2 linked regions of the Homo sapiens genome follow. The protein of the gene in region 2 interacts with the protein of the main gene of each other region in a pairwise test. Each region holds a gene or a part of one and is shown on either strand. Other genes may lie near its edges.

Evidence for each region.
Region 1: the proteins of MC4R (region 2) and ATRNL1 interact in a two-hybrid assay, tested with the Homo sapiens proteins (one study listed by BioGRID).

What each region holds. Positions count from the first base shown.
Region 1 is NC_000010.11:115,089,155-115,096,418, reverse strand, and holds the start of ATRNL1 (attractin-like protein 1 isoform 1 precursor), read right to left. Parts: upstream 3,055-7,264; 5' UTR 2,875-3,054; coding exon of another isoform or gene 2,783-2,874; 5' UTR 2,669-2,782; coding exon 2,376-2,668; intron 1-2,375. UniProt on the Homo sapiens protein: May play a role in melanocortin signaling pathways that regulate energy homeostasis.
Region 2 is NC_000018.10:60,370,493-60,377,036, reverse strand, and holds MC4R (melanocortin receptor 4), read left to right. Parts: upstream 1-4,261; 5' UTR 4,262-4,687; coding exon 4,688-5,686; 3' UTR 5,687-5,975; downstream 5,976-6,544.

The sequences.
Region 1 (7,264 bases), on a different chromosome or scaffold from region 2:
ACCTTTCATAGGTTTATTTGCATGTACTTTACCAAGAAGAATTCTTTTCTACTATACATAATCCTTCTCTTTAACATTAAATACCAATGTGTTCTTTATCCCCAAGAGTATACATAATAAAAACACAGATCGTTACACCAGTTATATTTACTCTAATTAATAGCTTGTATTCCACAGAGAAATGCAAAAGCATTTACCCAATAGAGTACAATGAGTCCTAGGAAATAATAGCTTCCAAGGAAAAGATGAATACTCAGTGATTAGCTCAGGATTTATTGTTATTTAACAATATCTACATCAAATATCTATTCTTCTTCTACTCACTAATGTATTTTGTTTATGAACACCACCTCTCAATGTTATTTAAGCTAGTTTTAACTTGATCTGTGATCTTTTTAACTGGGACAACATCTGCTAGTGAGGTCACAGGCTGCTGATCCAGCTGATTAACAAGTTCCGCTACTTTAAAATGAAGCTTCTCAGGACTGCAGCAAATTTTGTCCTCTTTAGACAAACGGAGCAAACCCACCCACACAAAAGCCAATATCCCTACATATAAATCAGGCACTCTCCCTATTTATGTAAAAAAAATGTAAAAAATGGATGAGGCTTTTTCACTGCTGACTACCAGTTTACATGTTCAAAATTCTCTCTTGCTAGGTAAAGACGCTGAATTCTACTGTCATAGCAAACGTTTAAGAACACAAGCAAAAAAAAACAACTAACAAGCAGAATTCATTAAGATCTCTTTCCTCATCTTGAAACACTTTTTAAACTTTTAATCAGCATCTCTCCTAATTTTTTTAAAAAGTATTTTTAAAACTACATTACTATACTACCTTTAAAGTATAAACCCTAGAAAAATTTCAACCTATTGCATAAGTTTCATAAAACTTCACTTTAAGATTTCACTTCCAAAACCTACTAGTTAATTTAAATCATAGACTCTACCTAAAATTTTAAAGTGCCATTTTAAAAATATACATTTTTACATTGAGTTTTAAGGGACATTTATTTTAATCAGTAATAGTAAGTTTTTTTTTAAAAAAAAAAAAAAAGGAAAGTATGCTGTGTTTAAAATTCCAGGAAATTGTCCTAGAATACATTAATAAGGTGAACCAGTCTTACCTTTGCCTTAGAGCCCAAGAGAAATTTCACCTAGATTTTGGCTATCAGCCTAACAATATCAGTAATCTACAATATTCAAGAGCCACAAACCAGCCAGCAAACTTCATATTAAGTATCTAGAAGACTAAGAAGCTGACTTTCTTAATGACTGTTACCTGCATGTTGTTAGAAGCCTGCCCCAATATTAAGTGACTTTTGCTACTCCCCTACACTGTGACCCATTGCTTTTTATATCAGGCAAGAATGTAATAAACACCAACCAGTACGAAGAAAGTACCTTCACCTTAGCAAGCAAACTTCTTAGGCTCCTTGAGCTTCAAACAAGCCAAAGCGATGTTCCCGCACAAAAGCTGACAGTGAATTAACCGATCAGAAAAAAATCCATTATCCTCACCACATAAAAACGTCCTTCTATCTAACCTAAAGTCACCTTTGTATTTCTCAATTCAAGATTGTCCTAGCAAATACAACACAGCAAATTCGTTAAAAGTACACATTCTGGAGTGTGTACTGGCTCCAGAATGTGCCAGCTGATTTGGAATCATAACTCGGCCCTTACTACTGTGTAATCCTGGCCAAGTTACTTCAATGTATCGCCTCGATTTCTCTCCGTAAATCCAGCATAATAATTCTAGCAACTCACAGAGTTGTTGTAGGGAATAAATGAGAAAATTGACATAAAGCGCTTAGAAGAGTGTTTGGCACTTAGCAAGTCCATCATAAACTCTACTTATTAACATCACTATGATGACTAAATAAATGTTAGAAGGGGTCACCTCTAGAGAGAAGAGAATGGGGAAAGAGAGAGGCACTCATAGATCATAACTGAACCTTTACACTTTTGTGAATTTTTCACAATGCGCATGTATTTCATAAGTAACTTGGACAATTTCTGATTTTTAAATATTATCCCAAGAAAATGGTGCTGGGCATCATAACTGATTGTGAAAATGTTCGTGCTGAGCAGCGGATCAGAAGTCGCTGCGGACATCTGGAACGCTCGAGAAATGCCTAGCTCCCCGTTGGTCAGGGCTCCGCGCGGGCCCGAGCTCTCCCGGGGCGCCCCGGGGCTGGAGGGGGCGCGGCGCGGGCCCCACTCTCGCCCGCTCCCGCCGCGCGCTGAGGTTCACTCACGGCCGGGGGATCAGAGGCAGCGACGGGGGCGGGGGAGGCCGCGAGGGGGGCGGGGAAGGCCGCGACGGGAGCGAGGCAGGGCTGGAGGTTCGGGGTCCGGCGAAGGCACTTACTTGAACCTGCCCTGGCAGTGCTGGCACTGGTCCCCCACCCAGCCCGGGTCGCAGAGGCAGGTGGAGTTGACACAGCGGCCCGAGAAGCAGGAGCCGGTCCTCTCGCACGGCTTGGACTGGGACACCTGCGCGTAGAGCGCCAGGTAGAGGAAGCCATAGCACAGCAGCCAGCTGTTCCCGTCCAGCAGCCAGGAGGAGGCGCCCCCGCCGCCGCCGCCCGCCGGCCGAGCCCTCCACACCCCCGGGGCCGCTGGCTGCGGGGTACCAGTGCGGGCCCGGCCCCCAGTCTCCATCTTCCCCGGCGCCCCTGCCCGGCGAGACTGCGCTCGCGGGCGCCGACAGGGATGCTGTTGAAGGGAATTCCGGCCGCAGAAAACCTCTCCGCCGCCGCTTCTCCTCCTCCTCACCGGCGCCCGTCCGAGTCCCGCTCCCCGGTCAGGAGGGACAGATCCCAACCGCCGTCGCCTCCGCTCGGCTGCCTCCAGTCGCACTCGGGCATCGCCACCCAGTCTCCCGACCTTGTCCTTAGCGGGCCGACCCCACAGCCGCGGCGTCCCGGACCCGGCCGGAGGCGGGGAGCGGGAGGCGCAGACTGCGCCCGGCGCTCCTGAGGGGACCTGACCGGCAGGAGGAGGGGACCCCGCGCGCGGCCCCGCCTCGCCCGCGGCCCGCGCCAACTGCCTCGGCTCCGAGCGCCGCGCGCCCAGGAGGGCGGGGGCCGAGCGGGCGCCCCGAAGTGGGCGCGCCCAACGTGGAAGGGGGCGATCAAGGAGGCGGCGGTCAGCCCCGCCTCGCCCGCCCGGCGGTCAAGGGCGCCCCGGCAGCCATTCTGTCTCCGGTGCCTCGAGCCGGCCGCAGCGGCAGCGCCGGGAGCCCACGATGCGTGGGGCCGCCCCCCGCCCTCGCGCGCGCCTACACTCCTCCCCACAGGCCCGGCGCCTTGGTCTCGCCCCGCCCCTGACAGGGACCGGGGACTCCCCCACGCGCGCGCGCCCACCCCGCCTGGCCCGCGCGCTGACTGGAGACAGGCCCCCCAGGTGTGGCCCGCGTGCCCTTCCCCCCGGCCGGTGCGGGCACCCCGGCCCCACCCGCACCCCGCGCCCCGGGAGCCCCACGAATGAGAGATCGACACAGGCTTCGCAGCTTCAGCAGAAAAGAAGTCCTTCCCGTCCGCCGTCTGCAGCTGCAAAAGTGCAACGCTTTTTCCCTAGCGCTTCCCCCTTCCTCCGCCCCATCCTCCTGCCTATTTCTTCTTTTTCTCTTAAGAGAGAAAAACTCCAACAACACACAAAGAGCTGAGCATGTGCAGCAGGCAAAAGCCTTAAAGGCACCGCAGTCCGACCACGTTGTGGGGTCAGCGAGGGCTGGGAGGGGCGGGGATTGGGGACTGCGAGAGGCGCGAGGCGGTCTCCGCGGAGGGACCTCCGAGGGGGAGCCATTGCTGCCTCGGGAATAACGAAGCCCGCGCCCCCAACAAAGAACTGCGAGGCTCCGAGCCCCGCGCTCTCCACCCCTTACAGACGCTGCCTCGAAACCGCACGTCTCTCCTTTTCTGCTTGTCAGTGCTCCCTCCTCCATCTGGGACGATATTCTGCCTTGAAAAATATTGCAGCATCGGGGCTTTTTTTCAGAAGAGCAGAAGTGATGCCCACAAAAGGGCCGTTTTCCTTCCTCAGCAGCACTTTTTCTTCTTCAGATGACTTTCCAAGATTGGCTGGCATATTCTGAGATTTTTGTTTTGTACTTTGGTGCCTTCTCTAAACAGTTGCCTTTTTATTTGACCCCCTTGAGAAAGGAAGCCAAACACACATTGCAGCCATATATCCTCGAGTTACAGCAATGTTGCTGGAGTCCCACCAAAGAACAGGCAGTATGAAAAAGAATTCAAAATCCACCAAAGGCACTTCTCACAGAAAAAAAAAAAAAGAAGAAAGAAAAGTTTGTTGTAACTACATAGTCAAAATATTATTGTTAGGATTCAACTCGTGTTTATTTCGCGTCAGTTCTTTTCATGTCTCTTATCCCCACTTGCAGATGAAATCCTCCATTAACCCCATTTTGCAGATGAGAAAGAGCAACTCAGAAAGGTTGAAATATTGGCCAATGGCAGGTTAGGAGTAATGAACTGAGCTTTAGACACGAGGCCTCTGACTGCTGTGCTTTTTTCACTGCTTCTATTAGCAGATGCTTTGTTCTTCCTTCGGTGAATAAAATATACGTGTTGGCTTGGTTTAAAAATACCTCAGCAGTGACTTAAGGAGGAAAAAATAAAAACAAAGATCCAGAAGGAGTTGGCTCCTTCGCAAGGAAAAGAGCAAAAGGAAAACCACGATTCTCGTTGGCATACAGAACAAATCATAATTTCCATAATTTCAGGGTTTTACCAGTATCAAAAATGTCCTTATCAAACCTAGAATTAGGATGCCCTCTTCTTCCCTTAACATCTTTTCCACATCAGGCTGCCCCTTAGAGACTTCTTGAAATGAGTGAAGAAGCAGAGGAGAGAACACTGCAGACACCAGTTAAAAGGAAGATCCTGTTCTGGATCACATCTTTTCATTTCAATGACTGTGAAATCCAGAAGAATTCTTTCTAGTGTCAGCCATGCATGAACACTGTCTGCTGCTTTTCCATTCTTCTCCATCTGCCAGCCAAAGTCAGCCGCATCTTTCTCACATCTAAGGTAGAGTCGCTTTCAGACGTGGGGAAAGTGGCCAAACTCTTAAAACCGTCAGTGAGTGTGAAGGTAATTCAAAGGGTGCGCTGTAGTCCCTTTGACGAGAGAGATCACAGCTCAGTCACATACTGACTGTAGCCTGTATTTGAGCAGAGCTTGCCCATTAAAAATATACTCATAAGTGGGAGTTGAACAATGAGAACACATGGACAGAGGGAGGGGAACATCACACACCAGGGCCTGTTGTGGGGTGGGGGGCTAGGGGAGAGATAGCATTAGGAGAAATACCTAATGTAGATGACGGGATGATGGGTGCAGCAAACCACCGTGGCACGTGTATACCTATGTAATAAACCTGCACGTTCTGCACATGTATCCCAGAACTTAAAGTATAATAATAATTTTAAAATACATATCTTTTAATTGAATAACCACTATAATCAGCTCAGTACTTCACATTACACTGAAGAACATGCAGCCCCACGGGCCTCCTCTCAACATTGCCTTTAGAATCAAGCTGAATATATTAAATTTATATGAATTATTCTCACAAGGATCTCAGAATTTTCACTCACCTTGTATTTTGTTTCTCTCTCAAACACTTTTAGTCAACACTTACTGAGTAACTATTATGAATTTAAGCAAGAGAAAACAAATATGAATAAAGCATGATTTCTACCCCAGATTAGCTTATCTTCTATCAAGCTCACTAGACTGTGAGCTCATTATACAGTTGAGTGTCATATACTTTACAAATGTAGACACAGAAAACTTAAATTATTTTATATGGTCACACAAAAACTCAATGGCAAAGTTTGCCTAGAATCATGAGTTATGTTTCAGTACCTTCTATGATCAAGAAATGTTAAAGCTCCAACATATTTTCTTTTTTTCCAATTAAGTAGGGTCAGCCTCCTAGAAGTGCTATATCATACTGAAATAATTAATAGTATTGGTAATAGCAGTCATAAATCTAGCAAAAAGGTGAAAATTTACTCCAAAGCCATACTGGGGGAAAATTCACCCTACGGAAGTAGGATGAAACTGTTAAGAATTATCTATTTTAAATTCATCCAAGGGGAAAGATAAGAAAAGACTATTTGTTTTCTTTAGCCTTATATCAGGACCGTTAGATATTTTGAGGTGTATGTTTCATTTCCATTCATACTACTTAACAATGATGTTATAATATGATGGGCAAAAATCTGACATCACATCACCAGATTGTTTAAAGGAAATTTAAGTGATTTTTTAAGAGAACAAGAGAAATGATAGATCCAATATCTTTTGATTGCTACTCAAAAAGTAAAAGATCCTATTTGGGCTAATGAACCAAAGCAGACTCTTTTCAGTTGCTTAATTTAAGAATCTCTGTTCTCTGGTTATTGTTCACCCTTTGGCTTATATGAGGCTTCTGAAAGCAACCAAGATAATGAGAACTACAGATAGCGTGGCCTCAAAAGCTAGAAATGCATTCACTCAAAGGGACCCACAGCGAAACTGGGGCAGTATTCTTAAGACACAAATAGATGATGAATGGTCTGTAACGTTAGACAGTTTAAAAAAACAACCATCAAATTTAGGTACTTATTAAAAAATTATTGATGATATTTAAAATGTTTATATGGCTATGGATCTGAAACACCACCACCGTCCCAATCAAAATCTAACATTCTGCTTTCTCTTGGATTCATTCTTTTCTTCCATCGGTTTCCCTTGCTGTCACAGTTGCAAACACACACATACACTTCTGCCAATTTTTCTACTTAACACATTTCAAACATATTGTTATAAGTAAATCCAAGGAAATAAATCCAAAGATTATAAATTCACTATGCTGGGCTACTACATTCTTTTTTAGCTGGGAAATAAAATGAACATCCTTAAACTTTTAATCCTAAATATTCAGTCTTGTCACCAAAAAAAGTTGATTGCTAATAGCCAATTGCAGAAACTTGTCTTTAGTGAAATCTAATTCAATAAAAATATGGGCTAGGGCTTCCTGATAAACAAAGTAGATCAAGTATGTGCATTTACCTCTGCTCCCTCTGGAAACTCTGCCAACATGATAGGAAAGGTTTTTGTTTTTTGTTTTTTCTTTTAATTTTTTTCAGGTATAAACTCACAATGATAAAGAAAATGAGAAAACAGCCAACTTGCAGATGAGAGGTGACAAGGCATTTGGAAGTGTCAATGAAGGAGAAAAGTGAAT
Region 2 (6,544 bases):
CCAAGGTAAATTTATTCAGGAAAATGGCTAAATTGAAGTAAGAAGAGTGAAACTTGCAGCATTTTAACTAGACATATTTTCCCATTCCAAACTCACCAGCTCTGCAGTAGCTTTGACAACTAACATCCTATAAAAATGTTTAAAAGCATCAGTCTAGCAGGAAATGGAGGGTGCAAAATGGGGTTGGATCTTCTTCAAAGCTCCATTCCCGTTACCAGAGATGCCATCATTATTTTGACCTATCTGTTGGTTTCCTGACAAACTCTACTTGCAGGGGTTTCTTATTTGACCTAACTCAGAACTCACCCACGGAGAACAGTCTTTTCCTCAGGGACATTTGTTGGAAACAATCAGAACAACTGCTTAACATCATGGCTGCCTAAGGCAATGGATAGAAGTTGGCGAAAAAAAATCAGCTATTCAAAAAGCCTAAAAGAAAAAGCTCAAGAAAATGAGATGTCCATAGGAATTTATTAAAACTCTAATATATTCCTGAGAATCTAGAAAGCCGTACAAACATGCAGGACTGTGCTTATGATCAGAAACAACAACAACAACAACAAAAACTAAGAAGGTCTTGACTTCTCACCTCTGGCTGACCTTTGTGGCTGTGTGTAAGCAGAAGGTAAGGCCAAGGCAGAGTTGCCCAGTGCCTGGCTAAGTGTCAAAGGCATGCCCATCATGGACACAGAGTCTCTCAGCAATGACTAGGGGAGATGTTAGTTCCTGACATCTAAGGAAATCTCTGTCCACTTATCAGCTGACCAATAAGCTATCAGAGCAGAGACCTCATTGATCATACAAGACAAAGAATACAGACATTCTAGAATTATTTAAGAAAAATTACTGAACAACAACAATAACAAACAACAACAACAACAAACCCTGGGTAAGAGAGAAAATCTGATTTTCAGGGTTGCTGGATTGTGTTATTCAAAATTCCCCGTTTCTAACAAAAATGAATAAATAAAATGCAGGCAAATAAATAAGAAAATATAGCCCATACACATTAGGAAAAGGAAGTCAGCAGAAATTATTCCTGGGGAAGTCTAGATGTTGCACTTAATATATAAAGCCTTTAAATCAGTTCAAACATGTTCAAAGGATTAGCGAAAACTATACGTAAAAATTAAAGGAAATTATGAGAACAATTTCTCATCAAACAGAAGATATCAAAATATAAGTGTAAACTTTAATAACCATGGGTTAGGCAATCCTTTTTTAAATATGATCCCAAAAGCTCAGGCAACCAAAAAAATTTGATAAATTTAACATCATCGTAATTAAAAGGTTTGTGGTTTCAAGAACACTATCAATAATTGAAATGGCAAAAGTACCCAGAATATGTAAAGAGCCACTACAACTCAATAATTTAAAAAAATCCAATTAAAAATGAGCAAAGGATTTGAATAGGCATTTCTCCAAAGATTATTACACAAGTAACTGGTAAGGATGTAAAATCATCTTCAGTATCATTAGGCATTAGGGAAATGAAAATCAAAAGTATAATGAGAGTTCACTTCATATCCTTATGATGGCTAAAATAAAAAAGATGGACAATAGCAAGTGCTAGCAAGAATGTGAAGAGATTTGAACCCTCATACATTGCTAACTGGAAATGTCAAATGGTGCAGCCACTTCAGAAAACAGTTTGGCAGTTCCTCAAAACAAGAAACAGAGTTATCATATGATTCAGCAATTCCATTCCTGGTTGTGTATCCAAAAGAATTGAAATCATCTGTCACATAAGAATTTGTCCATAAATATTCCTAGCAGCATAATTCGTGATAGCCAAAACTGGAAATAACCCAAATGTTCCTCAACTGATGAATACATTTAAAAATATAATGTATACAGCCAGGTGCAGTGGTTCATGCCTGTAATCCCAGCACTTTGGGAGGCCGAGGCGGGCGGATCATGAGGTCAGGAGATCGAGACCACGGTGAAACCCCGTCTCTACTAAAAATACAAAAAATTAGCAAGGTGCGGTGGCGGGCACCTGTAGTCCCAGCTACTTGGGAGGCTGAGGCAGGAGAATGGCGTGAACCCAGGAGGCGGAGCTTGCAGTGAGCTGAGATTGCACCACTGCACTCCAGCCTGGGTGACAGAGCGAGACTCCGTCTCAAAAAAAAAAAAAAAAAAAATATATATATATATAAATGTATACATACAATGGAATATTACTCAGCCATAAAAACAAATCAAAACTGGGCACAGTGGCTCATGCCTGTAATCTCAGCACTTGGAGAAACCGAGATGGGAATATCGTTTGAGCCCAAGAGTTTGAGACCAGCCTGGACAACATAATGAGATTCAATCTCTACAAAATTATTTTTTAAAAGCTAGCTGGGTGTGGAGGTACATTTAGTTCCAGCTACTCAGGAGGCTGAAGTAGGAGGATCACTTGAACCTAGTGAGCCATGATCATGCCACTGCACTCCAGCCTGGGTGACAGAGCAAGATCCTGTTTTAATTTTTTAAAAATCAAATTCTGATTCACATTATAGTGTAAGCAAACCTTGAAAATATTATGCTACATGAAAACAGTGAGCCACAAAAGGCCACATATTGCATTATTTCAATCATATAAAATGTCTAAAATAGGCACATTGATAGAGACAGAAAGTAGATTAGCAGTTCCTAGAGGATAAGGAAAGGGTAAAATGGGGAGCAACTGCTAATGGGATAATGAAAATGTTTTAGAAATAGAAAGTGATGATTATGGCACAACTCTGTGAATATATTCCCCCAAAAATCCATTTAATTACTAAAGAGGTGATTTTTTTTGGTATGTGAATTATATGTCAATTTTTAAAAAGAGAAAAAATAAGGCAAGAGGAAGGTAAGATTATTTCCAGCTCATGATGTTCAGGAAAGCCCATTCCAGCATTTTACAATATACAGATGATTAGGCATTCAGAAATACAGGGGAAGGGAGTTGGAGGTGTGAGTTCTGCTCTGTGCAATCATTCAAGAGACAGGCTCCTTTCATGATATGGTCCTGCCACCTGTAACATGAGATTTCAAAGACAGGAGAGAAAACTTGTGTAAAATTATGAAAGAGCTAATGCGATGAGCCCCACTGTCAACATGCCATTAGCTAGAATTTAGTCATAAGGTCCTACCCAATTCCAAAGGTGGATGGAAGACGTTAATTTATCTCAATGCTCAGGAACAATACTTAGTATTGTCTCTGTCACAAAAGGAAAGAGGATACATTCCCAACCTAAGTAACTGAGATTCAGAATTAACCCTGAAATAAGCAGCTACAAACTATAGAGCACTAAAACCAAAAATAATCATAGAAGAAAAGAATATACAAAATTTTGTATAATCTGTTGTTCAGTTAATTTGGAAAGTAACTTTGCTGCCATCTTTCAAACCACCTTAAGCAAAATATTCAGAAACTTCAATAACTAACTAGTATCACCAGTCTTGGCTTGATAAGTAAAGTTACTAGGTATTTGTCGGTTCAACTTACGATACGTTAAACTCTGGAGGTTTAAAAAAAAGTTGCTTAAAAAAAAAAAACAGAATGCAGCTTATTATTTTCCTGAGTTCAGTGTAAGCATAGTTACATTAATGCCGTATGAGTTTAAAATATTGTAAATAAAAAGCACCTTTTTTCAGCTATAACACAAACTCCTCAATAGAGAAATATGGGATATTAGTGCATTAAAATCAACCCCTTTTGAACCCATTCATAATTTATAGCTACCTACATAGTTCTTCCAGCCATACCATGTCTATCTGTATCATTAAATATCCTCTCTGTTTTTCAGGTATTTTAACTGAACCACTACTGGCTGGGTTCTTAATAAAAACAAAAAATTAAGAAGGTAAATAAATTCAGTATCCTAGCCAAAAAGCAGAGTATCTGTTTCAGGAACATAAGACAGTATACTTTCCATTTCATTTTACACACACACATGATGTCTTTTACATAAGAATGAACCTGGCTGCCTGAAGATAGCTTGTTTTGATATCACAGAATGGCCTCTAGGGATCAAGTTGTTTCCCTTGAAAACTTAAAAAGGGAAATTCAGTCTCTTATCCGGCTTGCTTCTCGACTTCAGACTTCAGGAGCTTCTGCATCTGAATCTGTGTCACCCTGCAATTTGTGTCTCTGAAACATAATCCTGTCTCACAGACTCCCATTGCATTGGGATTGGTCAGAAGGAAGCAGAGGAGGAGCCACCGTGAACATGTTTTTTTTCTCTCCACACATCATAAAAATCAGCAGCTGGCGCCTACAGCCCCTAACACTCAAAGCAACGCTCAGGCTGGAAACAGAAGCTTCCGAGAGGCAGCCGATGTGAGCATGTGCGCACAGATTCGTCTCCCAATGGCATGGCAGCTTCAAGGAAAATTATTTTGAACAGACTTGAATGCATAAGATTAAAGTTAAAGCAGAAGTGAGAACAAGAAAGCAAAGAGCAGACTCTTTCAACTGAGAATGAATATTTTGAAGCCCAAGATTTTAAAGTGATGATGATTAGAGTCGTACCTAAAAGAGACTAAAAACTCCATGTCAAGCTCTGGACTTGTGACATTTACTCACAGCAGGCATGGCAATTTTAGCCTCACAACTTTCAGACAGATAAAGACTTGGAGGAAATAACTGAGACGACTCCCTGACCCAGGAGGTTAAATCAATTCAGGGGGACACTGGAATTCTCCTGCCAGCATGGTGAACTCCACCCACCGTGGGATGCACACTTCTCTGCACCTCTGGAACCGCAGCAGTTACAGACTGCACAGCAATGCCAGTGAGTCCCTTGGAAAAGGCTACTCTGATGGAGGGTGCTACGAGCAACTTTTTGTCTCTCCTGAGGTGTTTGTGACTCTGGGTGTCATCAGCTTGTTGGAGAATATCTTAGTGATTGTGGCAATAGCCAAGAACAAGAATCTGCATTCACCCATGTACTTTTTCATCTGCAGCTTGGCTGTGGCTGATATGCTGGTGAGCGTTTCAAATGGATCAGAAACCATTGTCATCACCCTATTAAACAGTACAGATACGGATGCACAGAGTTTCACAGTGAATATTGATAATGTCATTGACTCGGTGATCTGTAGCTCCTTGCTTGCATCCATTTGCAGCCTGCTTTCAATTGCAGTGGACAGGTACTTTACTATCTTCTATGCTCTCCAGTACCATAACATTATGACAGTTAAGCGGGTTGGGATCATCATAAGTTGTATCTGGGCAGCTTGCACGGTTTCAGGCATTTTGTTCATCATTTACTCAGATAGTAGTGCTGTCATCATCTGCCTCATCACCATGTTCTTCACCATGCTGGCTCTCATGGCTTCTCTCTATGTCCACATGTTCCTGATGGCCAGGCTTCACATTAAGAGGATTGCTGTCCTCCCCGGCACTGGTGCCATCCGCCAAGGTGCCAATATGAAGGGAGCGATTACCTTGACCATCCTGATTGGCGTCTTTGTTGTCTGCTGGGCCCCATTCTTCCTCCACTTAATATTCTACATCTCTTGTCCTCAGAATCCATATTGTGTGTGCTTCATGTCTCACTTTAACTTGTATCTCATACTGATCATGTGTAATTCAATCATCGATCCTCTGATTTATGCACTCCGGAGTCAAGAACTGAGGAAAACCTTCAAAGAGATCATCTGTTGCTATCCCCTGGGAGGCCTTTGTGACTTGTCTAGCAGATATTAAATGGGGACAGAGCACGCAATATAGGAACATGCATAAGAGACTTTTTCACTCTTACCCTACCTGAATATTGTACTTCTGCAACAGCTTTCTCTTCCGTGTAGGGTACTGGTTGAGAATATCCATTGTGTAAATTTAAGCCTATGATTTTTAATGAGAAAAAATGCCCAGTCTCTGTATTATTTCCAATGTCATGCTACTTTTTTGGCCATAAAATATGAATCTATGTTATAGGTTGTAGGCACTGTGGATTTACAAAAAGAAAAGTCCTTATTAAAAGCTTAACAATGTCTCCTTCGTGTTATTCATAAGCATTGGACACTTTGCGTGCTTTCGTAACATAGAAATCAGAGCCTCATTAAACATATTCTAATAAATGCTTTATTATATTATATTATCCACCATTGAAATGTAGAGAGTTCATTCTAGCAGTTAAGGGAAAATATTTAAAGAATAGATGTATAATCATTTTTAAAAATATCATCACTGAAATTTCAAGTAATTTAATTAAAGGTTTGTTCATCCTCCCTGTGCAGAAGTAGAAATGAAGCTCCTCTAGAGAGAAAAACAGGTGCTGAAAAAAGAGAGATGCTGAGTTAGAAAACTATGTGTACTTCTCAGACACAGAAAGATTCATCTCCCTTAGCAAACAGCCTGATATTTCACACAGGCAATTCGGTTTGGGGTGGGTGGGAAAAGGCAGCTATAGGGATGAAAGTGTCCTGGAAAACCTAAGTTGCCATGTCAAGCTAAATTTCCTGTTACCAAATTATCCCTAAACAATATTAATAAAACAGAGAATGGGGATTTATGCCCCCTTTAAACAAGGATTCAGGGTCTGCTGAAGTGTCCAGAAAAGGT